Linked DNA regions of Homo sapiens. The gene in region 2 interacts genetically with the main gene of each other region. Each region holds a gene or a part of one and is shown on either strand. Other genes may lie near its edges.

Region 1 (7,852 bases), on a different chromosome or scaffold from region 2:
CTGCTGGGCTGTCGCCAGCCTGGGTGCAGGAGGGCTGTTCTAGCTCCAGTGGCACCCATAGCCAGGTCAGCTGGGGCCCTTTCCCACCCCAGCAGGTGCTGTGGCCTGGGCCAGCTCCTGCCTTACAAGCCAGCTGTGAGGAATATGGGAATAGCCCTCCCGGCCTGGTGCCAGCTCTTGGAGTTGACACGGTACAGGGAGGAGACACAGCCCAGGGTCCCTTCCCAGCCCTGCCTCCAAGGAGTTCATGTCCCCTCTGTTCTCATCTGTAATAGGGAGGTGTCCCCATTCTTCAGAATGGACACAGGATCTGGGAGGGCAGCAAACTGGCTCGCAGCTCCAGCCTTACTGAAGAGAATGGGCACAGATCCGGGCACAGATCCCAGCACAGACTGCTGCCACCCTCAGCTGTTGGCAGGTCCCATGCTGCCAGGGCAGGGCTAGGGTCAGAGGCTGCTGTGCTCCCTGGAAGTGGGGTAGGGCCCCATGTGGGGCAGAGGCAGAGCTCTGATTAGGGATTGGGGTTCTTGGTCGCTGAGATGTGAGAGGAGGGCTCCTTTGAGCACATGTTAGCATGGGACTCTTCCCAGGGAGTTTGCACTCAGGGCCTCTGCCCTCCATCAAAGAGTGGAACTCCCCAGAGCCCCATGCACAGCAAGGGGACAGCTGGGCCTTACTGGAAGGCCTTGAACAAAGGGGAAGATTCCCAGCCCAGCTGCTCTTAGACATGAACAGGTTTCATTGCTGAGGTGTTTGTTCTGTCCATGAGGTAGGAACCTCGGCAATGAAAGGGTGAGGCAGCCCTGTGTCTCCACAACTGGGGGGATGGAAGGAACCTTGGCTGCCTCACCCCACAGGTCGGGCAGGGCCACCTGGCTGGGAGGTGCCGGGAAGGCTGGGCCCTCACTCCTGACCGCCAGCTCACACCGCCGCAAAGCCATCTCCACAAGGTCTGGCTACAACACGGAGGGCAGACTCAACAGAGAACAGTGTTGTTACCATGAAAATGACAACCTGTCTTTGGAGGAGGCCCCGTGCCACTGAGCATCCAGAAATAAACCACAACATGGACAGGCTTAGAACAACAAGGAAAGCTGCCAGGTCAGAAGAGAAAAATGAGCCACAGGGGTCGGATAAGGCTCACACACGTCCTCAGCTAAAAAGGGCAGGAACAGAACCTTCCAGAAGTCCCTGCCTCACCCAGTCTCAGAACTCTGCTAAGGTGAAAACTTAGGCTCTGAGGTCATAGAAAGGGCAGAAGACCTAGTCCTGGCCCTCTTCTGCACCTGAATCCATGGGGCTTTGGCATCACCAGATGAAAAATGAGGCATACGCCCACCTGTCAGGGTGGCTGATGAGAGACAGGAGAGGCTAGATTGGCATCAGCCTGAAGGCACCACTGGCAGGAACATCTGTAGGCTGGTTTGGCACAACCTAGGAGACGCCTGTCCTGGCCCCAGCAGCCGAAATCTGGTGAACTTCCCCGCTGACTGGCAGGTAGCAGAGGCCTATGGTGGGCAGGACTTGCCCAAGGCCCTGGTGGGGCCAGGATGAGAACCCTGAGCCTGTCACCTGTGAGCTCAAAAGCTCTGCCTGGCAACCTGTGAGCTCAAAGCTCTGCCAGGCAACCATGGGCAGTTTCTTTGCCCTCTGTGGGCACCCCTATCCTACCACCTGCAGTTGGGCTGAGAGGCCACACTGAGTGAGGACGGGGCAGGCATAGAAGGATGTGGCCAGGTGAGATGGGGAAGCCAGTGCTGTGGGCCAAGAGACTGCAGCTCATTCTGTTTATTCAGGTGGGCCCTTGCATGGGCCCAGCCTTTAGGATGGGTTTTTTCTGCCCCAAGTAGGGGTCATGGGTAGGATGGAAGCTGCCAGAAGCCTCTTAGGCCTGGCCCTGGGTGGGGGTCACTGCTGCGGGGGTGGCAGATGGGGTCCTGGCTGTTCCTCAGGGAGGGGCAGGTAATTGGGGTCTTCTGCAGGGGCATCCAGGAGCAGCTTTCTGTGGGGAGGGGCCCGTGTTGAGCACAGGCCAGCACAGGTCCCCATCGGTGGGGATCCTTCTGAGGGTGGGGAGAGGGAGGGAGGGCTCTCAACACTCACAGGAAGCCAGGGGTCTGCAGGAGCCTCTTGCCTCCAGGCTGGTTGGGGAAGACGTCCTCCAGGAAGTAGTAGATATGGCCCACCGCAATCCCTGTGAGACAGCCACGGACTGTGGGGTCACCCTCCACAGCCCAGAGTCCTAGACCAGCAGAGCCTGCCCCAGGCCCCCATCCACAGCCTGGTGGCCCTGCAGGCCCCACAGCATGAGTGCCCCAAAGCCTTGCACAGAGTGCCAGCCCCGGGTTGGCCGTGAAGGACAAGCTTAAAAGGCCCAGAAGCAGGCAGGACCCAGGGAGGGGAGGGCCTGAGAATAGTGGAGGAGTGGGAGCCATGGGGCAGGAACCCTGACCCTCCCATCCTCACTCCCATCAGGACCGTGCAAGCATCAGTAGATCCGTCCTGACGATGCAAATTATGTGGGCCGGCTGGCTTGAGGGGCTGTAAGAGCACAGCAGCTGGGAGGGCAGGAAGATGGGGATGGAGCCAGGTGTGAGGAGAACTCCAGCAAGGATGGGAGAGGGGCCCCAGGGCATAAGCAGCGTGTCCTGAGGGGAGTGGCCAGCCTGGGGCGGACTAGATGTACCGGGAGGCTCACCCAGCAGGTCCACGAGGATGGAGTTGCCCAGCAGCAGCGAGAAGCCCATGAGCGCCCAAGGCAGGAACGGTGCCTGGAAAGTGAGCAGGCCGAAGAAGTTGACCCTCACCCGAGGGCTGCGGCGGCTCCACACGTACACCAGCATGGCCATGAGGGCCTGGCCCAGGAAGAACAGGCTGCCCAGGAGTCCCAGCAGCTGGGCCAGAGTCAAGGTGCTCCGGTGCAGGCCTCAGCCCAAGCCCAGGGCCCCTCTGACTTCCCAAGACCCTGGAATTCTTCCCCTCATCTCCCCTATGTGCTATTCCCTCATCAAGATGAGCCAGTCCAATAAAGGCGACACACTCCACGGGCTTCAGGTCCCACGAAATCTGCCCTGCACACCTACAGCCTCATCCCAGGGCCCAACCACTGCCTGTCCCTGCCCCAGTTTCTCCCGGCTACTCGCATTCAGGGCTCAGCTAGTGGCCCTGACAACCCACCTGGCTCTTTTGTGCATGGCTTTGTATTTTGCATACAGCACTGAAGATCTAGCCCTGACCCCTGCAGCTGAGCACAGAGTGGGCCCTCAACACATACTAAGCTGGAGACAGCGACTGTGTCCCTCTCTGGCATGGCTGTGTTGGCCCCAGGACCAACACAGGCTGGACGCCGAGGCGCCCTAGCCCGAGGTTCCAGAGCCTGCGGGAAGGATACGGTCATAAGGACGCCCCCGAAGAGAAACATGAAGACGAAGTCGGCCGTGCGGCCGCGGAAGGAGCCCTCTTCCAGCATGCGGCAGTAGCGGAACCTACGGCGTCGGTATAGGAAGTGCCACCAGGCGGGGCCTCAGTTTCCCCGTCCCGGCCTCTCTCCCAGCCCGGCCGGCCTGCCCTCCACCCAGCCCGTGTCCGCAGGGCGCAGGATACACGAAGAGCATGTTGAAGAAGAAGCTGAATCCCAGGGGCCCGAAGAAGAGGAAGTTGGTGACGAGCCTCCAGACCTACGGGGGACGGGCGGTCAGGTGCGGGGTGGGTGGGTCGGGCCCACAGGTGCGCGGCGCGGGGCGGCCTCACCTGGAACTTCCGGAACACAAGGTGCGGGTTGAAGTAGAGTTGAAAGGGGCTGAGGAGCTCCAGCTGCTGTGGAACCAGGGGCCAGTCAAGAGCTGCCCGGGAGCCACGCCGTAACCATGGCGACCCTCACCCCTCCCGCCAGAGGCTGTAACCAAGGCGACGTCCGGTCCGCCCGGCCGCTTACCACCGCGGCGGTGGTGAGGACACAGGCTGCGGTGTAAGCCCGCGTCACCGCCGGCACCTGCAGGAACTCGGCCGCTAGTCCCTGCCACGCCATTGAACCTTCTCAAGCACGCGTGGCCCAGCCAGCAACGCGCTCTTTAACCCGCCTCCCAGCCCCGCCTTCGGCCAATCCGCATCCGAGGCGCTGCGCGCCCCAGGCTGAAAAGAGAGCCCCTGAGCCCGACAGCCAATGGAAGGAAGAAGAGGGAAATTAGGGGCGGAAAGGGAGAGTGGGCGGGTAGAGGCTGGTGGCCAATGGGCAGGCGCCAAGGTTGAGCACGTGGCGGTTGTTGTGGCTGCGGTGGTGGCGCGGGAGAACGTGTGGCCAATGAGGAACTGGTCATTTCGCGGCTTTCTAGGAGAGGACCAGTAGCGTGGACCCACGACACCACGGGGGCGGGGCTAAGATCGTATGGGTTACAGGAGCGAAGACCCGAGCAGGCGAGGCAAAACTGGAAAGGGCGGGGCGCGTGGGCGGGGCGCGGAGTGTGGCGGCTCAGACCGTGCTGGCTCACTAACTGACGACCTAGCCACAACGTTGTCCTCGCTGCCAGCCCAAGACAGGCCCACCTAACCCACAGCAGGGAGGCATTCGGGAATGTGTCCAAACCTCCCCAAACGTCCAGGGCCCCACTCAAATGTGCCGGCCGCTGTCGGGGTTCTTCCCCGGGGGCCCAAGGAAGGAGAGGCAGGACTGCGGGATTGAGTCCAGGTGGGGCGCGAGGGTTGAGAGGCGCACCAGAGCAAGTGGACAGGCAGGAGAGGTCCTCAATATTTTGGTGGAAAATAGAAACCAACCTACCCACCTTCCTTCCCTCCTTCCCTCCCTCCCTCCCTCCCTTCCTTCCTTCCACCGTTTATTAAACAACTGTTTGCCTGACACTGTTCTAGATGTTGGGGATGTAGCATGCAATAAAAGACACTGTCTCTTAGAGTCCAGCCAGGAGGCAGTCAATACAATAAGCTAGTGCTGACACTTGATGAGAATATTGCCAAGTGAGGGGTGGGGCCACGTGGGCGTCCGCAGTGCCAGGTGGGGTGACCTGGGATACCTCTAAAGTTTGTCACTTTGCAAGCATCCCTGTGTCCATCAGGATGGTAACTGTGAAAAGCAAAACAATAAAACAAAATAAGTGTTGGCGAGGATATGGGGAAATTGGAACCCTTGGGCACCGTTGGTGGGAATATAAAATGGTGCATCCGCTGTGAAAAACAATATGATCATGACTCAAAAAATTAAAAATAGAATTACCGTATGATCCAGCAATGCTGCTTGTGGGTACACATTCAAAAGAATCAAAAGCAGGGACTTGAACAGATGTTCATACACCCATGTTCATGGCCCCATTATTCACAATGGTTCACATCAGTTCACCCACCGATGAGACAGACGAAATGTGCTGTCTACATGCAATGCAATACCATTCAACCTTAAAGGAATGAAATTCGGATACATGATGCAGCATGGATGACCCTTGAAGACATTACACCCAGTAACATAAACCAGTCACAAGGCTGGGCGCAGTGGCTCACACCTGTAATCCCAGCACTTTGGGAGGCCGAGGCGGGTGGATCACCTGAGGTCAGGAGTTCGAGACCAGCCTGGCCAACATGGTGAAACCTCGTCTCTACTAAAAATACAAAAATTAGCTGGGCGTGGTGGCGGGCACCTGTAATCCTGGCTATTCGGGAGGCTGAGGCAGGAGAATTGCTTGAATCCGGGAGATGGAGGTTGTGGTGAGCCGAGATTGCACCACTGCACTCCAGCCTGGGCAACAGAGTGAGACTCCGTCTCAAAAAAAAAAAAACCAGTCACAAAAAGACAAATACTGTATGGTTCCACTTATATGAGAGGGGATCAGGGAGTTATTGTTTAATGAGTGCAGTTCCAGTTTGGGAAAATGAAAAAGTTCTGGAGATGGATGGTGGGGAGGGTTGCATAAGAATGTTTAATACCACTGAACTGAACACTTGAAAATAGTTTGGACAAATTTTATGTTGTGTATATGTTACTAAAATTTAAAAAAAAACAACAAACCTCTGTGTTTGCTGTCAGGGTAGTGGACTGCCAGAGGAATCCTTGAGCAGGGGGAATCCTTAAGGGACAGTGATTACTTTCGGGGCTGGGAGGTGGAACCTGGAGGACAAGGAGGGGTGGGATATGGGTTTGCCTACAGACGGGACAGGGCTGAGAGGGGAGTCCAAGTGGATTCAGAGGCCTGAGCCGCAGAGTGGTTGGATGGTGGTGGTCTTTGTTGAGATGGAGGGCTCGTGGGGAGAAGGTGAGGGGCATAGAGGGTCCTGTTCTGGACTCATCGAATTTGAGGCATCTGTGTGACATCACTTGGAAAAATCTGAGTGTGGTGTTGGGGTAGGGGTTGGAGCAGACAGTCTAAATGTGGGTGCCGTCATCCAGTAGTAGATCAATGGTATTTGTAGCTTTGGGCGTGTGTGAGATGCTCAAGGGGCAAGGGTTGATGGAGAAAAGAGGCCAGGCCTGGGTAGCCTGACCTGCAGTAGCCAGGGAGGGAAGGCAGCCCCAGCTGGGGAGGCCAAGGGAGGCTGAGCCAGGAAAGGGCTTCAGGAGCCAGGCAGTGAGAATCCAGGGAGACGTGGCCCGGGAAGGGACTGTGAATTGCAGCCATGCCAAGGTTCCTGGTAACCAGGATAATGGCAGGCAGGAGGGAGAGGAAGGCACACAAATGGATGTGCCTTAACAAACAAGGGGAGTGCAGCCTTGGAGGGAAGTGTGGAAAACGAGGGATGCTCTGGACAGGGCCCTGAGGTCCCCCGAGGAGACTGGAACTGGCCAAGAGGGAGAACTGGCTGAGAAGGCTCTCAGGTGGATCCCAAGAGCGTGAGGGTCCCACAAGGGCCCTGAGAGGGGTTCCCTGGGGAGTGGGGTGAGACCAGTGCCTAATGACAGTGGGTTCAGGAGCCTTCCTCCCTGCTCTGGAGGGGACGGGGAGAGCCTGGAGTGCTGGAGGGAAGTGCATTTGCTGGAGGGATGTGAGGAGAAGGTCTGGCCTCATACAGCAGGGGTTGGACCAAGACACTGAGGGGTTGGGGGCTGGGAGCAGGGTGAGCGGACCCCCGCAGACAACCTTGGTTTTCCAGCAAAGCAGGCTAAGGTCATGTTGGAAGCATGCCAGGCAGAGCAAATCCCACCCTGGCAGCCACAGTGTGCAGCAGGGCGGGGACCCAGGGCCTCTGACGCCTGGGCGGGCGCCCGGTGGGCACAAAGGAGCCGGTGCAGGAGGTCGGGTTTCATGTCAGCGTGGGGAAGGGGAGATATTCCTCCTCCAGGCACTTAGCAGGCGCTGGCCGGCCCTCAACTCAGGGTCAGGCTGGGGCTAACAGGAGGGGATGTCATTGTCGACAGGGGCGTCTGTCTCCCCTTCGACTGGGGGCCGATAAGGCAGGCGCCCAGATTGGGGGCTGAGAAGCACATTCCTGGGAGGCCAGGAGCCTGGGGCGGGTGGGGGAGGCCAGCCAGGGCTGGGAGGGAGGACATCCAGGGAACAGCAGCTGGGTCCACTGCAGAGGCTCCCTTTCCGGAGCCCCGGGATATCCTCAGATGGGGGAACTGAGGCACGTAAGGATGCAGAACAGGGCCTGGGGCAGACCTCCATTCTTTCTTGTCCAGTCTGAGGCCCAGAACAGGCCACTCTGGAAATACTAGGTCCACTTCTCCTTGGACCCTTGAGCCCCTCCAGATAATTCTTTATAGAGGGAAGCCCTGGGCATCCCAAGTTCCCAGGGTCCTAGAGATGCAGGGTGTGCCTTACCCTAACATCAGGGTGGCAGACCTGTCGGCTGGGCCAGCCTTCTTTCTCCTGTGCTGAGGATGGTGGGTGGGTGGAGACCTGTGGTTCCTCGG
Region 2 (8,080 bases):
CGGGTTCAAGCAATTATCCTGCCTCAGCCTCCCGAGTACCTGGGATTACAGGCATGCGCCACCACATCCAGCTAATTTTATACTTTTAGTACAGATGGGGTTTCTCCATATTGGTCAGGCTGGTCTCGAACTCCCGACCTCAGGTGATCCACTGCCTCGGCGCCCAAAGTGCCAGGATTACAGGTGTGAGCCACCGTGCCCAGCCCAGACTATATACTTTTGATGAGCAAAAAGCCTGTTTCTGCACTATAAAATTATAAAACAATAGGGCCACTTGCTTACCAGGCTTTACTGGAGTATTTTTCAAAGTATGAAAATCTAGAATTACTCTTAAATTTCACGTTGAATTGTCTAACAGAGATTTCAAATGGGGCTTGGCAGTCCAAGTGAACACTGGAGAGTTCTTAAAAGTTGTCATATCAGGCTGGGCGTGGTGGCTGGTTACTGCGGAGGCTGAGGCAGAAGAATCGCTTGAACCCGGGAGGTGGAGGTTGCAGTGAGCTGAGATCGTGCAACTGCACTCCAGCCTGGGCGACAGAGTGAGACTCCATCTCAAGAAAAAAAAAAAAAAAAAAAAAGTTGCCATATCAGCCAAAAGCATACAAATTCACTTCACTATTTTTTTCTTTCTTTTTTTGAGATGGAGTCTCACTCTGTTGCCAGGCTGGAGTGCAGTGATGCGATCGTGGCTCACTGCAACCTCCACCTCCTGGGTTCAAGTGATTCTCCTGCCTCAGCCTCCCAAGTAGCTGGGATTATAGGCGTGCGCCACCGTGCCTGGCCCACTTCACTATTTTCAATGTCCATCAAACAGAATTATTTACTCGTTGTAGTTAACATTTACTGAGCACTTATCCACTAGGCACTGTACTAAGGGCTTTATATTGCCATTCAATCCTGTCAACGATCCTAGGAAGTCAGGCACTGTCATCTCCCATTTTACAGTGACTTAGTCCAAGGTCACAGAGCTTAAGGACACGAGGCCGCGATGCTACATCTAGTGGTGCATTCTTAATTCCCAATTAAGAATCTGTTCTACATTGAACTTCAAAACCAAAGGAGAAGGTTGGGCACGGTGGCTCATGCCTGTAATCCCAACACTTTGGGAGGCCGAGATGGGTGGATGACCTGAGGTTAGGAGTTCGAGACCAGCCTGGCCAACATGGTGAAACCCCATCTCTACTAAAAATACAAAAATTTGCTGGGCATGGTGGTGCACGCCTGTAACCCCAGCTACACAGGAGGCTGAGGCACGAGAATCACTTGAACCTGGGAGGTGGAAGTTGCAGTGAGCCGAGATTGTGCCACTGCACTCCATCCTGGGCAACAAGAAAGAAACTCCGTCTCGGCCAGGCACGGTGGCTCATGCCAGTAATCCCAGCACTTTAGGAGTCCGAAGCGGGCGGATCACCTGAGGTAAGGAGTTCGAGACCAGCCTGGCCAACATGGTGAAACCCCGTCTCTACTAAAAATACAAAAATTAGCCAGGCGTGGTGGCAGGCACCTGTAATCCCAGCTACTCGGGAGGCTGAGGCAGGAGAATCGCTGGAACCCACGGGGCAGGTTGCAGTGAGCCCAGATCGCATCATCACACTCCAGCCTGGGGAACAAGAATAAGACTTTGTCTCAAAACAAACAAACAAACAAACAAACTCCGTCTCAAAACAAACAAACAAACAACAACAAAAAAGCAACACCAACTTAGACCTAAGGATGTGACTTTTCAGTAGAAGTATTAATATTTCTTTATCTGGCTAGAAAGGGAGATTCAGGAAAACGTATTATTACTGTTAAAAGCGAAGGTTGCTCTGTAGAAATGTATCTGATCTATTTTTCTGGCAAATCACTGACACGAGCAATAATAAAAACTTCCACACATTTTTATTGAAAACAAACTGGTAAAAATTTGAATTATAAAAGAATAGCAGCCAGATGTGGTGGCTTGGGCCTATAATCCCAGCACTTTGGGAGGCCGAGGTGGGAGGATCACTTGAGCTCAGGAGTTAGAGACTAGCCTGGGCAACATGGTGAAATTGAGTCTCTACCAAAAATACAAAATATAGCTGGACATGGTGGCGTGCGCCTGTAGTCCCAGCTACTCGGGAGGCTAAGATGGGAGGATCACTTGAGCCCGGGAGACAGATGCTGCATTGAGCCGAGATCATGCCACTGCACTCCAGCCTGGGCCACAGAGTGAGATCCTGTCTCAAAAAATATAAATAAATAAAATAGCATTGGTGATTATTTACAACACCAGCTCTTTCTCATAAGCAATACTAACTTTTGAAAGTTAGCTGCTGGCAAAAAGCAAAGCAAAGATGGAAACTATGGAAGGAAATTTAAGACAAGTTTGAGATTATTTATAAGGAATAAAAAAGTATTTTCCTTGCCACATAAAGGCCCCTTAATTGTTTAAATAAAAACATATTAAAGAAATAGCATATACTAAAAAAGCCCTAGCTGAATTCTAATGAAGTTTCAGAACCTAAGAAAGGCACAAGTGGTATAAAAATAAGCCAACGAAGATTTTGCTGTTTTAAAATAATCCTGTTAAAAAGTAGGTGATAATTTTAACAATATGCCACATCATATTCATTTCAGTGAAATCAATAGCCTCATGATATTTGACAGATTTAGGAAAATAAGACTCAAACCAAAACAAAAAACAGTAAATACTTCCAACATTAAGCATTCCCATAAACGACTGAGTTCTTTTCTGCAAAAAGTATAAACCACAAAAATGTTATCAAGAATCCTTTGGGCCGGATGCGGTGTCTAACGCCTGTAATCCCAGCACTTTGGGAGGCCAAGGTGGGTGGATCAGCTGAGGTCAGGAGTTTGAGACCAGCCTGGCCAACATGGTAAAACCCCATCTCTACCAAAAATACAAAAATTAGCAGGGCATGGTGGTACATGCCTGTAGTCCCAGCTACTCAACAACTGAGGCTGAGGCAGGAGAAATCGCTTGAACCTGGGTGGTGGAGGCAGCAGTGGGCCGAGATCCTGCCACTGCACTCCAGCCTGGGTGACAAAGAAAGACTCAAAAAAAAAAAAAAAAAAAAAAAAGAAAAGAAAAGAAAAAAGAACCCTTTAAGTTTCTCTGCAAAGTCACCAGCAGAAAGACTTCCATGTTCTGATTATCACAATTGTTTCCACACCCTGCCCTCTCCCATCCTGATTTTCCTAACAGATGGGGTTACACTTCAGGCATTGAGAAGTGACACCAAGGCAGGGAGCTGTGGTTCACGCTTGTAATCCCAGCACTTTGGGAGGCTGAGGTGGGAGGACTGCTTGTGGCCAGGAGTTAAAGAACAGCCTAGGCAACACCCCTGTCTTTAAGAAAAAAAGAAAAAGAAAAAAAAATTAGCCAGGTGTGGTGGTGTGTGCCTATAGATCCGGCTAGCCAAGAGGATGAGGAGGAAGAATCGCTTGAACCCAGGAGTTCAGGTCTCCAGCCTGGGGACAGAGTGAGACCCAGTCTCTAGTAAAAAAAATAAAAGTGACACCATTTTTTTCAAGGCAGATAGGATGTGGCTGCAAAACACTGTCTACTGTTCTCAATAAAGCATCTTGAGTTTTCTACACCTCGAGTAAAGCCAATCCATTAAAAACTTTAATTTTCACAGTCTAAGAACACATTTCGGTAATATACCACTGAGTAGACTACATTTTGAGTTTTCATTTGCTGTAAGCTTTACTGTCGGTGATGACCACTACCTTCTAGAAGAGGGATGACAGTAAACCCCAGTGAAGTGGGGAAGCTGGAGATTTCAGACAAATCACCAAGATCCACAAACACATCATCTGTTCTTGATGCTTTGGATACAGAGGTATGATCTTAAAATATCAAACTCTATCCTGGAATTCCATAAGCTCCATGGAAATGAAATCCTTCCTTCTTGGTCTTGAATGACTTTCCAGTTCTTTATCTACAAAGCGACTGACACCCAGAATATTATCTCCTTCATATTTTAATCTCTCAGGTCAACTAATGGCCTCAATTGTAAATTAAGTTAAATGGTGAAGTCCACATAACATCAATAATTTCCCTGCTTCACCATCAGGAATCCTCACCTAGTCAAGTGGGCTGACTGGTACTGTGATTCTGCACAACAGGTTACAGGTTGTAATAGGACTGTGCTTTCAAAGACATCAAATCACCTCACTAATTTCTACAGCTGACCACTGCTGGGCTACAACTGCATGTCCATTTGCCCAGTTATGAGGAGGAACACCCTAGGCTCAGAATGCAGAGCGCTCCTGTGTGTCACATCCCCCGCAAGCACAACGTCACACACAATTCTGTCAGATTTCACTGCTGCCTCCTGCTACTGACAGGCAAGAGGGCACTGCGGGCACAAGGAGAGTAATCCTTTTTCAATGCTGTGGTTTAAAAAAGGACTCCTGCAAGCTGCAGATCATCTGTCTCCAACAGAGCTTTCCCACCTTGCCTAGGAGGAGAGGAAGTGGGCATATGACCAACATACTGATGGGAAAGGAAGGGCAAGGGCTCACATCAGAGTTCTTATCAATGAGGGAATTAGAAACTGACAACTTGGATGTGAGTGTAAAAATTACCTGCTCTGTAAACAAATAATTACAGGCTGGGCACGGTGGCTCATGCCTGTAATCCCAGCACTTTGGGAGTCTGAGGCGGGCAGACCACTTGAGGTCACGAGTTCAAAACCAGCCTGGCCTCATCTCTACTAAAAATACAAAAACTTGGCCGAGCGTGGTGGTGCATGCCTGTTAATCCCAGCTACTCAGGGGGCTGAGACACCAAAATCGCTTGAACCCGGGAGGCAGAGGTTGCAGTGAGCCAGGATCCCACCACTGCACTCCAGCCTGGGTGACAGAGTGAGACTCTGTCTCCAAAATAAAATAAAAAAATAAATAATTACAGGTGTTCATTAGGAAAGATTACTTTTGTTTTTTTTTTTGGTTAGCATATTAAGAAACCTTCCCCTTTTTAAACCATTATGTTTGTCCTTTATTATCTTTAGGACCAGGGATGGCTAAACACCAGAATATGAACGTTTTATACTGCATCAAAAAGATGAACATATGGGTTATTTAAACAATCTTAGAGTTTCAGAATATCTGAACACTCCCTACCTTCAGAACAACCCTTATGTATCAGAGGATTAAATCTGTAAGCACTTTCTGTGAGCCAGGGCAGAGATCATATTTAAATCACTAAAACAAGTCAGGCAATTCTGCAGAGCCTGACATGGTCTTGCACTTTGACAATGGCCTTCTTCAAAGCAAAGATGCTTCTTGCAAACCAAGATGTGAAGTAAGTTACAACCACCTGCTATGCAAAAAAAATGCTAGCCACCATGGCTCCTTGAAGGAGGTCATTTACAAAGTAAAACTGCCCCAAATCTCACTTGTCTTCAATACATCAGACCAAATCAACAGCTGGCTTATTTTCTCTCAAAATGCCGTTTTACTGTGTAGTTATTTAAATAACTAACATCAGTTATACTAAGGAGTTAACAACCTTAAGTTTTATCATCAGCAAGGCAGAGCTTGGATAAAAGCATCCATGGTGGGTTGCAGAGGTGATGCCTCGCTTACAGAAATACTCAGAGTTCAGAGAAGAAAAGAACTGCAAAGGTTAGTGACTAAGATCTAAACCAACATGCTGTTTTTCTTAAGACTTCACTTTTCAGTTAGCTTTTTAGTACTATTACTCAGCTACTTCTCAACTAGGTTATACTGCTCGCAAGCTTAAAAGATCAATTCTAAACACGTAAAAAAATCTGGCCAAAGTCACAAGTCATATTCCCTCTACTTTCAGATATACTTACATCTTATTTAGGGAAAAAAAAGGTTTTGGGGGCATTATGAAAAGAATAAAATTTAGGCCGGGCACGGTGGCTCATGACTATAACCCCAGCACCTGGGGAGGACGAGGTGCGAGGACTGCTTGAAACCAGGAGTTTGAGAACAGCCTGGGCAACACAGTGAGACTCTCATTTCTATTTTAAATTATTAAATTTAATTTTTTTAAATAAAAAATTGTAAAACAGAATTTATTACCAACATCATTTAACTTAGATATCTACATATCCTCAATGGATCATCTTCAACTGTTTCTCTGCCAATTTAACACCCACGAGAAAAAAAGAAATTTAAGTATACTTTGCAGTTAGCCTATTCCCAAGGCATTAAAATGCACTGCTTTATTAATTTCAGCAAAAAATGAAATATAAGAAAACCTGGTTTTCAAGTGCCACATAACAAGAGGAACTATTAAGAAACAATGATCTCATTTTAGATGTATCATTACTTACCAGGCAAAGTACTTATTACAATTTTAAAGATCAAAATTAACAAAAGCTGTTTATGAATAGAGGCAGTTATGGGCAAACCAGAACTTAAATTAGCAAGCCTTAGATGATCTTAAAATTCTAATGTTTCTAATCCATGCAAATTCCAACTTTTCCTGTTTCCTCAGAGAAATAAAGCCACACATATCCCTGCAGAGATAAGCAGAATTTTAAAATTTAGAAAGAAAATATTTAACAAAAAGTTCCTTTCTTACAGCAAACTATTTTAATCAGTTTCTGACCAACTGCTGCCTCGAATAAATTAAAGAACTATATTAACTAGTATGAAAAAGTATGGTTCTTATATAAATACCTGGCATTAAAAGAATGACAAGGTTTTCACCTACAATACAAGGTTTTCACCTGCAATAACATTTCAAGAGCATTTCAGGGGTCCTTAATGACATTTAGTGTTTTTTTTGTTGTTTTTTTTTTAAAGACAGCATAAAAGGAAAGAATGCACAGATTAAGAAAAGGACGAGATATTTTCAGGAGCTTCATTTTAATAACTTACTTTAAAAGATCTGTAAATTCTAACACCAGAGCTGTCCAACTGTTCATGCCCTCGACTCCACCACTCACAGCATTTATAGTCCAACAATATTTTAGGACTGTATAAAGGCAAAAAGCAGTTGAAACTGCCAAGTTCCCATTATGAAGTGTCCAAGTTAGGGGATATGACTGAATTCTTACAAAGTCTTGGATAAGATGTTAGCATCCGTTGACATGCCCTTGAATCTGAAAGCAGCTCATTTCAGCTTCCGTCTTTAAAAGCTGAACCTCGCCCCTCTCCCACATCAACATGAATCAATTGCCAGGCACCTCACAAGTCTTAGATGAGCCGAAATTTAAAGCTTTCTATTAACCTTTACTTAACCACTGGCCACCTTCCTTCCTACATAAGGTGACAGTGTTGTCTGTAGAGGGTTCTAGCTCCCGGCTATGTGGATTTGAAATCCAACTGTCACTAACTGTGTGACCTTGGTTAAGTGACTTCATCTCAGTTTCTTCTGTAAAATAACAAAAACAAAAAAAATTGCAAATATCTTGCAATGGGTGGGAGAATTAAATGAAATCTGTCTTAAGTGCTCAAAGAATGCCTGACACACAGTAAGCGCTTTAGAAGCGTCAGTTATGATTACAGTAATAATTCATGGACGCAAAGTGCTTAAGACAGAGCCTGGCACATTGGAAAGATAATGATAGCGTCAGCCTCGTTGGCTTCCTCTTCAGATGCACGCTCAGGAAAAGAGCGCGGAGACCTCTCCAAGATTAGAACAACTTAAAAGGATTTGGAGGGCAGGCGAAGACAGGTTCTCACACCTCTTGAGACATGAACGCTTGTTACCAAGTAACAAGAAATGGGCCCCCCAAGACCCCAGAACCACGAAAAATAAAAATAAAAGCAAGCAGGAAAAGAGCCCCCAAACCCGGCGGAACTCATGCCCTCATCAAACTGCCTTCCGAGAGGACGAGCACCGAAAAGTCCATCTCGCACAGCACGGCACACGTCGTCCAGGAGGCTGGACTGGGATCCCCAACCATCGCTCCAAAGACCCGTCCAGTGCGCGGGGGCAAACGGGTAGGGGCGGGAAACGTGGGGGTGGGGAGCGGAGTTTTCAAATTCCACGGCCGGGAGGAAGCCTGCATCCTCGTGCAATGAATGAGCGGAGCCTGGAGGGTCCGCAGCTGGCGACAAGTTGGGAATCCCGGGCTGGCCTCCCTCCGGCTGCAGTCCCCGGCCC
Region 3 (7,212 bases), about 55 Mb from region 2:
TCCTGTCTCAGCCTCCTGAGTAGCTGTGATTACAGGTGTGCACCACCACACCCAGCTAATTTTTGTATTTTGGGTAGAGACGGGGTTTCACCATGTTGGCCAGGCTGGTCTCAAACTCCTAACCTCAGGTGATCCACTCTCTCTGGCCTCCCAAAGTGCTGGGATTACAGGTGTGAGCCAACTCGCCCGGCCCTCACTGCCTTCTTTTTTGCAGGACACTGATTAAACCTCAGAGGTTTCTAATGTCTTCCATACTACTCGTATCAATCTGATCCTAAAACCCAGCCTCTCAGCAACAGAACTTACCTGGCAAGACTCCCCAAGATTACCCTGGTTCATGGGCATGTATCCAGATGATGGACTTAAAAGGCTCTGGCTCTAGGATGAAAAAATAAGGAAAAGGTTAAGATGAAGGGAGAAATCTACATTCACCATGGGGGCCTTTGAGTAGTTAATCTGGGTATCTGTAGGGTTTGTGAGGGCTCAGGGTGCAAAGTGTTGGGTAATTAGAAGTTGTCTTACCCCACGTGGCCGATTAAGTGTTCCAACTGGTAGGCTGAGGGCGGAGCCCAGTGTGGTGGTTGCCAGGTTGTCCTCCTCTGCTTCCAAGTCTAGGTCTAGGTCTAGTTCTGGCTCCAGCTCTACTTCCTCTAGCTTCTTGTTTGTCAGACCATGGGGCTCTGGCCCAGGGGCTATTCCAGGCCCACTCTCTCTCTATATCGATAGGTGATTGTTAGGGGGAATCCTGGTTCCAGCCAACTCCTCCTTTTTCTAAATTTCCTTAGCACCTCCTACTCCCTACTCACCTTTATGACCAGATACCGTGGTGGGTCTCGGGCCATCCTGGTGAACTCATTGGCTAGTTCTTTAAAGGTTGGGCGAATGTTCTCATCAATCATCCAACCTGGAGATAAGATGTAGGAGGTAGAGACATAAAAGAGAATACATTCCATGGCCGGGCGCGGTGGCTCACACCTATAATCCCAGCACTTTGGGAGGCCAAGGCGGGTGGATCACCTGAGGTCGGGACTTTGAGACCAGCCTGGCCAACATAGTGAAACCCCATCTCTACTAAAAAGACAAAAAAAAATTAGCTGGGCGTGGTGGTGCACGCCTAAAGTCCCAGCTATCTGGGAGGCTGAGACAGAAGAACTTAAACCTGGAACGTGGAGGTCACGGTGAGCCAAGGTCACGCTACTGCACTCCAGTATGGGCAACAGAGCGAGACTCCATAAAAAAAAAAGGAATAGAGCCATAAGAGGAGTACAGAGGGAAGTCAGAAAATGGCTGCAGTCAGGCCGAGCATGATGGCTCACACCTGTAATCCCAGCACTTTGGGAAGCTGAGGCAGGCGGATCACCTGAGGTCAGGAGTTTGAGACCAGCCTGGCCAACATGGTGAAACCCCATCTCTACTAAAAGTGTAACAGTTATCCAGGTGTGGCGGGCGCCTGTAATCCCAGCTACTCCGGAGGCTGAAGCAGGAGAATCTCTTGAACCCGAGAGGCGGAGGTTGTAGTGAGCCAAGATTGATTGCACCATTGCACTCCAGCCTGGGTGACAATTGTGAGACTCTGTCTCAAAAAAAAAAAAAAAAGAAAAAAAAAGAAAAAAAGAGAAAATGGTTGGGCTCAGCAGGTAACTCACACTTGACCATCACCATGTAGACATCAATTGTGCAGATCTGGGGCTGTGCCAACCGCTCCCCCTTCTCTAGCAGGTCTGGTACTTCAGCCAATCGTAGCCCTGCATAGGGCTCTGCCCCGAAGGTCATCAACTCCCAAACTGTCACACCTGTTGCAGGAAGACATGGACTAGTCACTGGCAAAATAGTAGACATGGGCATGAAGTGAAGGGAAGGCAGAACCTGATCTAACACAAAAATCTGAAGTGCTTAGAGATTCTAAGAGGGGGTCTCAAAAGGTAAATTTGAAACTGGGGCCAGTGATGGTAGAGAGGGCATCCAGATGCACTGACCATAGCTCCAGACATCACTCTGGTGTGTGTATTTCCCAAAGTGGATACTCTCAAGGGCCATCCACTTAATTGGAGTCTGCGGATTAAAGATAGAGGTATCACAAGTTTATTTCCACAAATTTTCTTAGGATTTCCAAGTCCCAAATTCTTTTTTTTTTTTTTTTGAGACGGAGTCTCGCTCTGTCGCCCAGACTGGAGTGCAGTGGTGCGATCTCGGCCCACTGCAAGCTCCGCCTCCTGGGTTCACGCCATTCTCCTGCCTCAGCCTCCCGAGTAGCTGGGAGTACAGATGCATGCCGCCACGCCTGGCTAATTTTTTTTTTTTTTGTATATTTAGTAGAGACGGGGTTTCACCGTGCTAGCCAGGATGGTCTTGATCTCCTGACCTTGTGATCCACCCGCCTTGGCCTCCCGAAGTGTTGGGATTACAGGCGTGAGCCACCGCGCCCGGCCAGTCCCAAGTTCTTGATCATTATTTTATTTGTTGCCCTCTGAACTAAAATATCTGGCATCTGCAGCCTTCTCTCCTTGAACTTACCATGAAGCATCTGCTTGCCTCTGGAAGAGACCACTGGCTGCTCCCTATCCCCATGCTTCACTCCACCCCCGCCTCCTTACCCTTTGTGTCTCCTCACCTTGGCCTCACTGTATAGCAGCTGCTTATCATCAGGAGGCAGCAGGTCAGCCACACCAAAATCTGCCACCTGAACCTGACTGGGTGACTTGAGTAGCACGTTTCGGGCAGCCAGGTTTCTATGCACCATACCATGTTCCTCAAGGTAGTACATTCCCTGTAGGTATAGGGGAAGAAAGTATTCTTAAGGTTGGGGGAATCAGTCACTGAGATCTGGAATTCCCCCAAATCTTGAAGGTACCTCTCAGCAGTGGTCCCCAACCTTTTTTGGCACCAGGGACTGGTTTTGTGGAAGACAGTTTTTCCAGGGGAAGGGGAGGGTTGGTTTTGGGATGAAATTTTTCCACCTCAGATCATCAGGCATTAGTTAGATTCTCATAAGGAGTGCACAACCTAGATCCTTCACATGCACAGTTCACAATAGAAGTCAAGCTCCTAAGAGAATCTAATGCTGCCCCTGATCTGACAGGAGGCGGAACTCGGGCGGTAATGCAAGTGATGGGGACTGACTGTAAATACAGATGAAGCTTCACTCGCTTGCCTGCCGCTCACATGCTCTGTGGCCTGGTTCCTAACAGGCCATGGACTGGTACCAGTCTGCAGCCCGGGGGTTGGGGACCTCACCTCTCAGAACTTCAACCTTCTCACTTTTTCCTGGCTGGCCCCCAGACAAGCAGTTCTTATCACAGAATTCCTCCAGGCTTCTCTCACCTTGGCAATTTGTACTCCCCAGTTGAGCAGCAGCTGTGGCCCCAGTGCCCCCCGGTGTTGTCTCACATGATCCAGCAGAGAACCCAGAGGCAAATATTGAGTGACAAGCTGCAGAGATGACCCTGGGCATAGTCCCAGCAGCCTTACAATGTGGGCATGGTCCAGGCTGCCAATGGCCAGCATATGCTAAGAGACACAAAAGGTATTATCTAGGAAACCAACAGGTTCACATACACTCAGCATGTGCACAGCCAGCCCAGGCCCCCCCACCCCCAACATTCTGGCTAACATAGTAGCTGCTGAGAAGCACAGGACCCTGCTTCTACATGATTGTATCTAATATTGTCCTCTCTCCTAGCGGCATACAGAATTTCCTTCACTTACATCTGTCACAGCTTGAAAACTCTGCCGTCCACTCTTGTCCTCAATGACTTTAATGCAGACTGGAATCTTGATTGATTCACCCTCAGGGATCCACACTCCCTGGGAAGTTTGGGGCAGGAGTTGGCATAAGGTCATTCTCCCTAGGTCAATCCTATGCAAAAATCTTTCACCCCTTTGCCCTAGATGCCTTCCCCACCTCTCCAGAATTCCTATGGGTCACTCACTTTGTGCACAGTTCCAAAGACACCCGAGCCAAGCACTTTAAGCTTCCTTAGCTCTGTCTCTTTGAAGATTCTGGCCAAGACTTTGTTAGCCTTCTCACTGGGGTCCAGAGGCTCTATGCTCTGAGGAGCAAATGGGAAGGAGTTACTCAGGAAAGGCCATTCCCATGTCCCACTCCAACCCGCTCCTCATAGGTGAATGCCAAAAGCAGCACAGCTGAAAGGGCAGGAAGAGGAAGCACCGTTAGTCCTGGAATGGATTATAGGCATATTGAGGTACAGACCCTGAGAACTGAGGAAGTTATTTGTGCTCATGAGATCAGGAATCAAAGGGGTTGGGTTTTCCCTTTGATGGAGGAGCACAAAGTGGGGAAGGGGACAGCTAGGGAGAGTTGGTAGTACTATTACCACCTTGAGTACCTTTTATACAGTGCTCTGTGCTTTCCAAAGCACTTTCACATACATCATCCCCCTTTACCCTTACAGCCATCCTGGAAGGACAAATGTTATTTCCTCTGTATAGATGCATAAACCGAGGCACAGAGAAGATAAGTAACTTCTTCAAAGTCATGTGGCAAATTAATGGCAAAATCAGGACTAGAATGCATGCCTCCCATTTCTCTGACCAGTGTTCTTCTAGGGGACCACACTACTTCCTTGAAGAAAGGGATCAAATCTCTGGGGAAAGAGGAGGGGAGTGACATTTATCCCATCACTGACCCCTGGGTGCACAGGGTACCACTCAAAATTAAGCTATAAAGAGACTTCCAGGACATGCAAAAAAAGAAAAGAAAAAACAAAAGTAAGCTAAGTACTCACCTCACCCCGTTCCAAGTATCGCCTCATAGCCCTTTTATTCTGAATCCGGCGCCCACGCCAGTAGAGAAAAGTGCCGCCCAGCATCATGAAAATCACTACCAATCCTGCTATCACTGTCAAAGCCATTGTCAGATGGGTTTTGCTATGGGATATATAGAAACCCAACATTATCCTGGGTTTGCATCTTCCTTACAAATGTCAACTATACTTGTGTTGAAGGTATGATGCTGACCTGGGGCAAGAAATTAACATTCACATATATATCCTTAAGCACTGAAGGGACCAACCTAAATCTGGACCAGTCTTAGACTACTGAAAGTTAATTTTAGGAAGGGAAGTCCAGAAGCCTGCATTCTTGAGTCCCAAGTGTCCAGTGATAGTGGACTGCATACATAAAAGGCCAGAATGAAGACAGCCTCCCTCTTCTCTCCAGGTAACCACCTCTCTCCCAACTCCCAAATATCCCCAGTTTCCAGAATCTCCAACCCCATCATACCCGATCAGCACCAGTGTTTGTCCTAAACAGTCTTGAAGCTCTGGTCCTTTACACCTAGGGAAGAAAGTCACCACCTTAAATGAGAGCTTGGACAGCAGAGGCTCAATTTCAACAGCCTAACATATAAAAGCTTGTTTCAGAACTTACCGTGGCATCCCATCCTGGAGCCCAGAGCTGATCCCAAGACATGGCCTCCACCTCCAGCTCACTAGCTCTCCCCAAGCCCCTCTTCTGTGAAACTCCCTTGAACTGAGGTTATTCCAGGTTCCCAAAACTGTGGTGTAATTTTGTGCTGTTACTGATTTTCCCTTTCTCCAATCCTTCGCTACACAGCTGGGAGTGATTCTTTTTTTTTTTTTGAGACAGAGTTTCACTCTTGTTGCCCAGGCTGGAGTACAATGATGCAATCTCAGCTCACCGCAACCTCTGCCTCCTGGGTTCAAGAAATTCTCCTGCCTCAGCCTCCCGCGTAGCTGGGATTACAGGCATGCGCCACCACGCCGGGCTAATTTTAAATTTTTGGTAGAGACAGGGTTTCTCCATATTGGTCAGGCTGGTCTCGAACTCCCGACCTCAGGTGATCCACCCACCTCGGCCTCCCACAGTGCTGGGATTACAGGTGTGAGCCACTGCGCCCGGCCAGCTGGGAGTGATTCTTGAATCACAGCCTCTCTCTTCTTTCTGCTTCCCTCACTCTAGTTCTGTGCTCCTACCCTTCCACCTGACCCCCTCTCCTTATTATCCCATCACTGACCCCTGGGTGCAGTTCTCATGGCAGGGCCGACATTCATTCTGAACATCTGGGTACTTGTAGATTGGGCCCTTGGCACCTAGGACTCCATGGGGGCAGCTGCTCACACAGTGGGGCCCATCTCGAAAATGGGCACATTGAGCACAAGTATCAGAGCCCTGAGTGGAAGAGAGAAGGTCAGGAAGAATCAGATCCCAAGGTCAATTCCATACCTCCCAGCAAAGACCAACCCAGACATTCAGGATCTTCTATCTGCAGGCCCTAGCATTATCTGGCCTCTCTGTGCTATCCTTAGCCATATCATTCCCCAGATGCTCCAAGTATTGCCCCTTCTCTGTCTCCCTTGGAGATCCTGGTGCTACTAGTATACCGAGCCATTGCATGTGGCAGTGCCCTCCATGGGTTGGCATTCCGGGTGGCAGGAGAAGCATTCGGCCTCATGGGCAAATTCTCGAGGCTCCCTGTAGTGGGGAATAAAGGGAGGGGGGGGTCACTTCCAAGTCCTGACCTTCATGCTCCGATCTCACAACCACAGGTCTCCTACCTCAATCCCACCAAGGCACATGCAGAAAGCTGTCTAAAGACTTTTATTGTATGCCACCTGAACAGTTCCATTGCAGGGCCCCACCCCCACCCATCCTTGACTGGCTCCCCTTACTGTACCCATTCAGAAAGTTGCAGTGGGTCACACAGACACCTCCTCGGCTATAATTTCGACAGGACAAGCACTGACCAGGGCCTGGGCCCCAGCATCCCCCAGAGGAGCACAGTGGGTCACACACTTTGCCCTCTGCCACTGGAAAGGAAGGGGTGGGTTAGGAGAGGAGTCTGAGGACTCCCAGCAAGCCCTCTCTTCATTATTCTTCCTCGTTACTGCTTCCAGCCTAACAGCCCCCTTCTCCTTGGTTCCATCCCTCAACCCTACTCCCACGTCTAGGGCAGAATAGTCCTTTCAGCCCTCTCCTCCCTGACTCCCTATTCTCACCACCTAGCAGACCCTTTCCCTCACCGCAGTCTCTGCGCGGCCGATTATGCTTGATGTCTAGTCGCTCTTCCGTAGGCCCCCGAAGCACCTTGGTCCAGTTCAAAGAGTGGTGGTAGCAGAGCTGCCTATTGGCACTTATATAGATACGCCCAGCACTAATTTCCTTCAGGGATCGGAAGCCCAGAGATGTGACATTCAAGTTCTTCATGATCAACAATGAGAAGCCCCGGCTGAG
Region 4 (8,080 bases), on a different chromosome or scaffold from region 2:
GCTGTAAGTAGGGAAAGCACAGGATATGTGTGTACACCAGGAAATGTCATCTGATTTCACATGAAGGGTGGGTTTGTGGTGGGAGTAGTGGGAAGAGGAGTTAGAATAAGTTGTCTATATTGTGGAAGAATTCCTTGAATGTCATGCTAGAGTTTTAACTTTATTGTAGGCGATGGGAACACATTAAGGTTCTTGATCAAGGGAATGATATATTCACAGCCAGTAGTTTGGGGTTAATTCCAGGAGGGTGGCTAGCAATGTGGAATCATGTCATTTCTGGGTTGTTGGTGGCCTGGAGATGCAATATATCTTAATAGTCATATATCTTAGCACTGAATAAATGGCTTTTGAAACCTTAAATAAGTGATTCTCAACCTTACTTTGGGTTAGGAATTACCTGGGGAGCTTTACAAAATAACAAAGATGTGGGCCCAACCCAAGGGATTCTCATTCCATTGTTTTGGGGTAAAGCCTGCACCTTGGGATTTTTTTCAAGTGCCCTAGGTATTACGATATGAGGCCAGGGTTGAGAACCATTGATTTAAGGTTAATAATAACTTCATTCCTTTTATCAGACTTTTTTAGAGTGAGAGATTCCTGGTACTTGTCATCATAGTAGGAATAGCTGTAGTATTTTATGCTATAGGATTGAACTGATGCTAGATGAATTAATTTTGTTGGTAAGTTTTACACAAAAACAAAAATGTAAGTGAATATTGTTGGCAAGTGACTATTGATCAGGAGAAGTGTTTAAATGTTTCTTGGCAGTTTTGTATTACACTTACAGTCTAGTTTACTGAGATCTTATAAATAACCCCAAAGCAAACTCTTTTATTTTTTTTGAGACAGAGTCTCGCTCTGTTGCCCAGACTGGTGTGCAGTGGCGTGATCTCAGCTCACTGGAAGCTCCGCCTCCTGGGTTCACGCCATTCTTCTGCCTTAGCCTCCCAAGTAGCTGGGACTACAGGTGCCCGCCACCACACCTGGCTAATTTTTTGTATTTTTAGTAGAGATGGGGTTTCACCGTGTTAGCCAGGATGGTCTCGATCTCCTGACCTCGTGATCTGCCCGCCTCAGCCTCCTCCCAAAGTGCTGGGATTACAGGCGTGAGCCACCGCGCCCAGCTGCAAACTCTTGATAGAAACCACCTATGCCTTTTTTTTCCCCACCTTCCGCTTCCCCAAATCAACGCCTGGCCAATGTCAGGACTATAAAATGTACTTTAGAATTGTCCTTTTCTTTCCTTGCTCTATTAGCAGTTTATAATGCATAACTTATGCTTTTTTCTTCAGTATGATTGTATATATATTCTTCAGTTGTAATACAAAATGTAATTCAAAGTTGAATGCTACATAACTACACTATCATAGTAATTCTGAATGTTAAGTTTTTATCTAGAAATGTCTAGAGCCAGAAACTCTGCCACAAATCATAAAAATTGTTTTCCACCTATTCTATTCTCATCACTGCCTTTTAAAAGTAAAAAACAAGCTGGGCACGGTGGCTCACGCCTGTAATCCCAGCACTTTGGGAGGCTGAGGCAGGTGGATCACCTGAGGTCAGGAATTCGAGACCAGCCTGGCCAACATGGTGAAACCCTGTCTGCGCTAAAAATAGAAAAATCAACCGGGTGTGGTGGCAGGTGCCTGTAATCCCAGCTACTTGGGAGGCTGAGGCAGGAGAATGGCTTGAACCCGGGAGGCGGAGGTTGCAGTGAGCCAAGATCGCGCCACTACACTCCAGCCTGGGTGACAGGGCAGGACTCCATCTCTAAATAAATAAATAAATAAATAAAACAATTACTCTTGAATTAGTTTCACTGACATGCTTAGTAGAATTTGAACAGTATGGTCTTCTTTCTTAAAAAAATATGTGTTTGAAATAAACTAGAATTTATTCTAGATAAGTTTATAAATATTTTATATTTATGGGTTATAAATCACTGTGGGTAATATCACTCAGTGATTGATATTTTAAATAAACCATAAAGTACTGAAAAGCCCATGAGACTGAGTCCAGAGGAGGGGGTCCTACCATTCCCAGGCTCTGTGGCTCCCAGGAGGGAAACGTGGTTTCCTCCTCACTCAAAAGAAGGGAGTTAATGAAATAAGATTTCTTCAAGCTTTAACTTTCTGTAACAGGATTAGCAAAGAACATTACCTGACTGGAAAAAAAAAAGATGATATATTTTTAAAATTCCTTATTTCTCTCATAACTAAAAACCCCACTTAAAATGTTATTTTTGGCTGGGCATGGTGGCTTACGCTTGTAATCCCAGAACTTTGGGAGGCTGAGGTGAGCGGATCATTGAGGTCAGGAGTTCAAGACCAGCCTGGCCAACATGGTGAAACCCCATCTCTACTAAAAATACAAAAATTAGCCAGGTGTGGTGGCAGACACCTGTAATCCCAGCTACTCAGGAGGCTGAGACACGAGAATCGCTTGAGCCCATGAGACAGAGGTTGCTTGAACCCAGGAGACAGAGGTTGCAGTAAGCCGAGATCATGCCACTGCACTCCAGCCTGGGTAACAGAGCAAGACTCTGTCTCAAGAAAAGAAAAAAGTTATTTTTTGGCCAGTTGTGATGGCTCATGCCTGTAATCCCAGTGCTTTGGGAGGCTGAGGTGGGCAGATTGCTTGAGCTCAGGAGTTCGAGACCAGCCTGAGCAACATAGTGAAACCCCCATCTCTACCAAAAATGCAAAAAATTAGCTGGGTATGGTGGCACACCTGTGGTCCCAGCTACTTGGGTGGCTGAGGTGGGAGGTTTGTTTAAGTCTGGGAGGCAGAGATTGCAGTGAACCAAGATCGCCCCACTGCACTCCAGCCTGGGTGACAGCATGAGACTGTGTCTCTAAATAAATAAATAAAATGTCATTTTTATTCATCATCCTCTCTGCTTATTGCCTAGTGTCTGATCACAAACCACAAGATAGTTCTTTTTTTTAAGAGACAGGATTTCTCTCTTTCACCCAGGTGGGAGTGCAGAGGTGCAGTCATGGCTCACTTCAGCCTCAAATTCCTGAGCTCAAGTGATCCTCCCACCTCAGCCTCCCAAGTAGATTGGGACCACCCGATCATACTACACACAGGTAATTTTTTTTTTTTTTTGTAGAGATGGGTTCTCGCTATGGTGCTTAGACTGGCCATATACCCCTGGCCTTCAGGTACCCTTCCACCTCAGCCTCCCTTCCAGAGTGCTGGGATTACAGGTGTGTGCCACTGCACGTAGCCAACATAATTCTTTTATATTGGTTTGAGGGTCATTCCTATGCTCCTCTTTTGAAAATAGCCAATGTGGCTAAAATAGAGTGCATAAATTAAGAGTGTTATAACTTAACTGACTTTTAAAGCCATTACTATTGACCTTTGAGACCTGGCTTTTTTCTTTGGTCCCATCAATCACTTCTGTACCACCTCCCCCAGTATAGAAGGACAAAAGGTTAGACAGATGCAGATACAGCTTGTATTACTGGGAATTATAGTGGTAAGAAGAAGGAGGTGGGGAAGAATAAAGGAACTACCATGTTTTTAGTTCTTATATTTCATAGTGATTATAACTAATATAATTAGAAGATTAAAAAATATTAATACCTTTCTATATTTAGGTCATACTACTAGATATTACACTGGAACTTCAGAAGCAAATTATGTCTGAATTGGAAATTCTTTATAAGGTAATTTTTTCATAATTTTTATTTGTAAAGCATGCCTATGGTATTGACTTGCAGGTTTATAACTACTTTTGTCTTATTTTTGTTACAGTGCGATTCATCATATATCATTGGATTTTATGGAGCATTTTTTGTAGAAAACAGGATTTCAATATGTACAGAATTCATGGATGGTGAGTTTTCCCTTTTATAATACTTTTAAAATGATTTTTAGAGTATATAGTGCTTTAAAACCTGGTTTTGATATAGATATCAAATAGAATTAAAGATAATAAAATATGCTAATAATTACCTCATTTATACTCTAAGATTATTTCAGTGTTAGGGGTTCCTGGGGTTAAATATTTATAGCCGAACTGTAATTTTAAGAATTGAACTTCACTTTTATTGAAAATTTAAATAGAACAGATTAAATGCTAGTCTAATTGGTGGTTTGATATTTGATTCTTTTGCACAATCTGTCTTTACTTGCAAAACAGATGTTCTGTTCTTTTAATGTTTCAATAGCCAAAACAGATTTTCTTTTAAAGAAATCTATTAACCCAATGTCCTGTGTCTTTCAGAAAGAAATCGGTTCTTAATTGCAAGATAAGAAATTGTTTTTCAACACAGCTGTTTAGCCAAGATGTGTTTAATTTTCTTTGGACTTTAGCCCTTTCCTTCCCTCTCTATTTTTTTATTCATTTCTATTTTGGTAGTTCTTTCTTGACCTGAATATTACGGCAAAATACAGATTTCTAGGGACATATCAGTGAAATGATGTCATCATTATTATTATTTACCAATTTTAAATCTAAGCAGTCTTTAAATTTTACATATTCAGTTTTCCATAGTCTAGTCCATTAAAACACAACTTAAGAAAATATTGTTAGTTCCTTGTGGAGATTCTCAGTACATTACTAAAGCAATTAGTTTGTGCCCTGCAAAACTTTAATGAGCCAACATTGGTACCTTGATACTGTCATAAGGTGTACAACATGCTCTAAATTAGTTATAGTAGAATGTCAAAAATTAAAAATCTTACAGCCATATAGGTAAGTATGGTAACTGTGGAGACTGACCAGAAAAAGTGGATTCATTGAGCCAGTACATGTTACTGTGTTGTAACTTTTATCATTCTTTCTTTGAAGTCTTCAATTTTTCAGTTCTACTCAAACATTTTTGTTGAAACAGGGCACGGTGGTTCACGCATGTAATCCCAGCACTTTGGGAGACTAAGGTGGGAAGATTGCTTGAGCCCAGGAGTTTGAGACCAGCATAAGCAATATAGTGAGATCTCATCTTTACAAAAAAATTTTTAAAAATATGGCCGGGCACGGTGGCTTACTCCTGTAATCCTAGCACTTTGGGAGGCCGAGGCAAGCGGAGTTTGAGACCAGCCTAACCAACATGGCGAAAACCCGTCTCTATAGAAAATACAAAAATTAGCCAGGTGTGGTAGCGCATACCTGTAGTCTCAGCTACTTGGGAGGCTGAGACTGAGAATTGCTTGAACCTGGGAGGTGGAGGTTGCAGTGAACCAAGATCGCGCCACTGCACTCCACCCTGGGTGACAAAGTGAGACTCTGTCTTAAAAAAAATAAAAAAAGGAAAATTAGCTAAGCATGGTGGTACGGGCCTGTAGTCTCAGTTACTCTGGGGGCTGAGGTGGGAGGATTGCTTGAGCCCAGGAGATTAAGCCTGTAGTGAGCTGTGATCGTGCCACTGCACTCCAGTCTAGGCAACAGAGTGAGACCCTGTATCAAAAAACAAATAAATTAAAATTTTTTATTGAAATATAACTCAGATACCATAAAATTCACCCTTTAAAAGTGTACAATTCCATGGTTTTTGATATACTCACAAGGTTGTGTAGTCATCACCACTGTATAATTCCAAAACACTTTTTACCACCCCCAGAAAGAGACTTCCTACCTATTAGTACTCACTCTCTACTTTCTCTTTCCTCAAGTCCTTGGCAACCACTGATTTATCTTCTGTCTCTATGGATTTACCTATTCTGGACATTCCATATAAATGGAATCTGATAATATATGGCCTTTGTGTCTGGCTTCCTTTACTTAGTATAATGTTTTCAGTGTTCATCCATACTATTGCATATATGAGAACTTCATTCCTTTTTATTGCTGAATAACATTTCGTTGTATGGCTATACTACATTTTGTTTATTCTTTCATTAGTTGATGGACATTTGGGATAGTTCTACTTTATGCATAATTATGAATAATGCTACTCTATATATTTGTGTACAAGTTTTTGTGTGGACATACGTTTTCAGTTCTTTTTTTTTTTTTGAAACAGAGTCTCGCTCTGTCGCCTAGGCTGGAGTGCAGTGGGGTGATCTCGGCTCACTGCAACCTCCACTGCAACCTCCACCTCCTGGGTTCAAGCGATTCTCCTGCCTCAGCCTCCCGAGTAGCTGGGACTACAGGCGCGTGCCACCATGCCCAGCTAAGTTTTGTATTTTCAGTAGAGACAGAGTTTCACTGTGTTAGGATGGTCTCGATCTCCTGACCTCGTGATCTCCCCGCCTTGGCCTCCCGAGGTGCTGGGATTACAGGTGTGAGCCACTGCACCCGGTCAGTGTTTTCAGTTCTTTTGGGTATATACCTAGGAGTAAAGTTGCTAGGTCATATGGTAGCTTTATGTTTAACTTTTTAATAAACTACCAAACTTTTCCAATCTGTTTTACACCACTTTGCATTCATACCAGCACTGTATAAGGTTCCATTTTCTTCATATTTTTGCCAATACTTGTCATTTTGTGTCTTTTTAAAATTGTGGGCTTGTAGTGTGACATGGTATCCCATTTTGGTTTTGATTTAGGTTTCTCTAATGACTAATGATGTTGAGCATCTTTTCATGTGCTTATTGGCCATTTGTATACCTTCTTTTGAGAAATATGTTTTCAAATCCTTTGTCTATTTTTTAAATGAGTTATTGGGCTTTTATTGTTGAGTTGTGAGAATTCTTTATGTATTCTAATACTTGGCTCTTATCAGATATGGGATTTCCAAATATTTTCACTTATTGTTTATCTTTTCACTTTCTTTTTTCTTTTCTTTTCCTTTTTTTGAGCTGCGGTCTCATTATGTTGCCCAGGCTAGTTTTGAACTCCTGGGCTCAAGTGATCCTCCCACCTCAGCCTCAAGTTTTATTGTTTTAGCTTTTATATTTAAGCCTTTGATTTATTTTTGAGTTAATTTTTATATATGGTATGAGATAGGGGTCCAAATTTATTCGTTTGCATGTAGATATACATTTGTTCCAGTACCGTTTGTTAAAGACTGTTTTTCCCATTGAATTTTCTTGTTATACTTGTTGAAAATTGACCATAACATATATTTCTGTACTTTCAGATCAATGCGTATACATCTCGCATTGATCTAGTTGTCTATCTTTGTACCAGTACCACACCATATTTGATTACTTGTACTTGAAAACTCTGGATTATTATAGTTTTTAAGTTTCAAATCGAGAAGTGTAAGTGCTCCAACTTTGTTCTTTTCAAGATTGTTTTGGCCATTTTGAATACCTAGCATTTTCATTTGAATTTTAGAATCAGCTTGGCAATTTCTCCAAAAAAATCCAGCTGGGATTTTGATAAGAATTGAATTGAATTTTTAGATCAACTTGGGGAATATTGCTGTCTTAACATTATTTAATCTTCCACTCCGTGAACACAGATGTCTTTCAACTTACTTAGGTCTTCTTTAATTGTTTTTCAATGATTTAAAAATAATTTTTAGGGTATAAGTGGTAACTATTTGTTAAATTTGCTTCTAAGTTTTTTTAATGCTGTTTTTCTTAATTTCATTTTTGGATTGTTCATTGCCAGTGTATAGAACTGTAATTGATTTTTGTATATTGATCTTGTATTCTGCAACCTTGCTGAACTTGTTTACTAATGTTAATAGCTTTTTGTGGATTCCTTAGGGTTCTCTATATACAAGATAATGCCATCTGCAAATAGAGGTAGTTTTAGTGCTTTCTTTTCAATTCTGAATGTCTTTTATTTCCTTTTCTTGCTTAATTACCCTGGCTAGAACCTTCAGTACAATGTTGAATAGACTGATGAGAGCAGACATCCTTCTCTTGTTCCTGACCTTAGAGGGAGAGCTTTCAGTCTTTCACCATTAAATATGATGTTAGCCATGGGTTTGGAATAGTTGTCCTTTGTCAGGTTGAGGAAATTCCTTTCTATTTCTAGTTTGTTGAGTTTTTTTTTTTTTTAATTATGAAAGGGTATTAAATTTTGTCAAATGCCTGTTTTATATCTATTGAAATAATCGTGCATATTTGGTCCTTTATTCTATTAATATATGGTATACTATATTAATTGATTTTTGCAAAATGAACCAGTCTTGCAGTGTTGGAATTATTCCACTTAGTCATGATGTGTAATT

Evidence for each region.
Region 1: of PPP1CC (region 2) and SMARCB1, changing one enhances a phenotype caused by changing the other (phenotypic enhancement), as found in Homo sapiens cells (one study listed by BioGRID).
Region 3: changes in PPP1CC (region 2) and ERBB3 together harm fitness more than expected from each alone (negative genetic interaction), as found in Homo sapiens cells (one large-scale study listed by BioGRID).
Region 4: changes in PPP1CC (region 2) and MAP2K5 together harm fitness more than expected from each alone (negative genetic interaction), as found in Homo sapiens cells (one large-scale study listed by BioGRID).

Annotation. Positions count from the first base shown.
Region 1 is NC_000022.11:23,834,961-23,842,812, forward strand, and holds the end of SMARCB1 (SWI/SNF-related matrix-associated actin-dependent regulator of chromatin subfamily B member 1), read left to right. Parts: coding exon of another isoform or gene 1-19; 3' UTR 20-1,908; coding exon of another isoform or gene 1,909-2,002; 3' UTR 2,003-2,099; coding exon of another isoform or gene 2,100-2,194; 3' UTR 2,195-2,698; coding exon of another isoform or gene 2,699-2,894; 3' UTR 2,895-3,049; downstream 3,050-7,852. Other genes in the region: DERL3 (derlin-3), read right to left, coding at 1-19, 2,104-2,194, 2,699-2,771, 3,178-3,485, 3,604-3,677, 3,751-3,816, 3,935-4,027.
Region 2 is NC_000012.12:110,734,436-110,742,515, forward strand, and holds part of PPP1CC (serine/threonine-protein phosphatase PP1-gamma catalytic subunit), read right to left. Parts: intron 1-8,080. UniProt on the Homo sapiens protein: Protein phosphatase that associates with over 200 regulatory proteins to form highly specific holoenzymes which dephosphorylate hundreds of biological targets.
Region 3 is NC_000012.12:56,093,340-56,100,551, reverse strand, and holds part of ERBB3 (receptor tyrosine-protein kinase erbB-3 isoform 1 precursor), read right to left. Parts: intron 7,208-7,212; coding exon 7,002-7,207; intron 6,789-7,001; coding exon 6,656-6,788; intron 6,454-6,655; coding exon 6,363-6,453; intron 6,151-6,362; coding exon 5,996-6,150; intron 5,296-5,995; coding exon 5,242-5,295; intron 4,888-5,241; coding exon 4,746-4,887; intron 4,050-4,745; coding exon 3,930-4,049; intron 3,805-3,929; coding exon 3,706-3,804; intron 3,508-3,705; coding exon 3,322-3,507; intron 2,768-3,321; coding exon 2,612-2,767; intron 2,053-2,611; coding exon 1,977-2,052; intron 1,794-1,976; coding exon 1,647-1,793; intron 905-1,646; coding exon 807-904; intron 715-806; coding exon 523-714; intron 379-522; coding exon 307-378; intron 1-306. UniProt on the Homo sapiens protein: Tyrosine-protein kinase that plays an essential role as cell surface receptor for neuregulins.
Region 4 is NC_000015.10:67,642,623-67,650,702, forward strand, and holds part of MAP2K5 (dual specificity mitogen-activated protein kinase kinase 5), read left to right. Parts: intron 1-3,608; coding exon 3,609-3,677; intron 3,678-3,765; coding exon 3,766-3,847; intron 3,848-8,080. UniProt on the Homo sapiens protein: Acts as a scaffold for the formation of a ternary MAP3K2/MAP3K3-MAP3K5-MAPK7 signaling complex.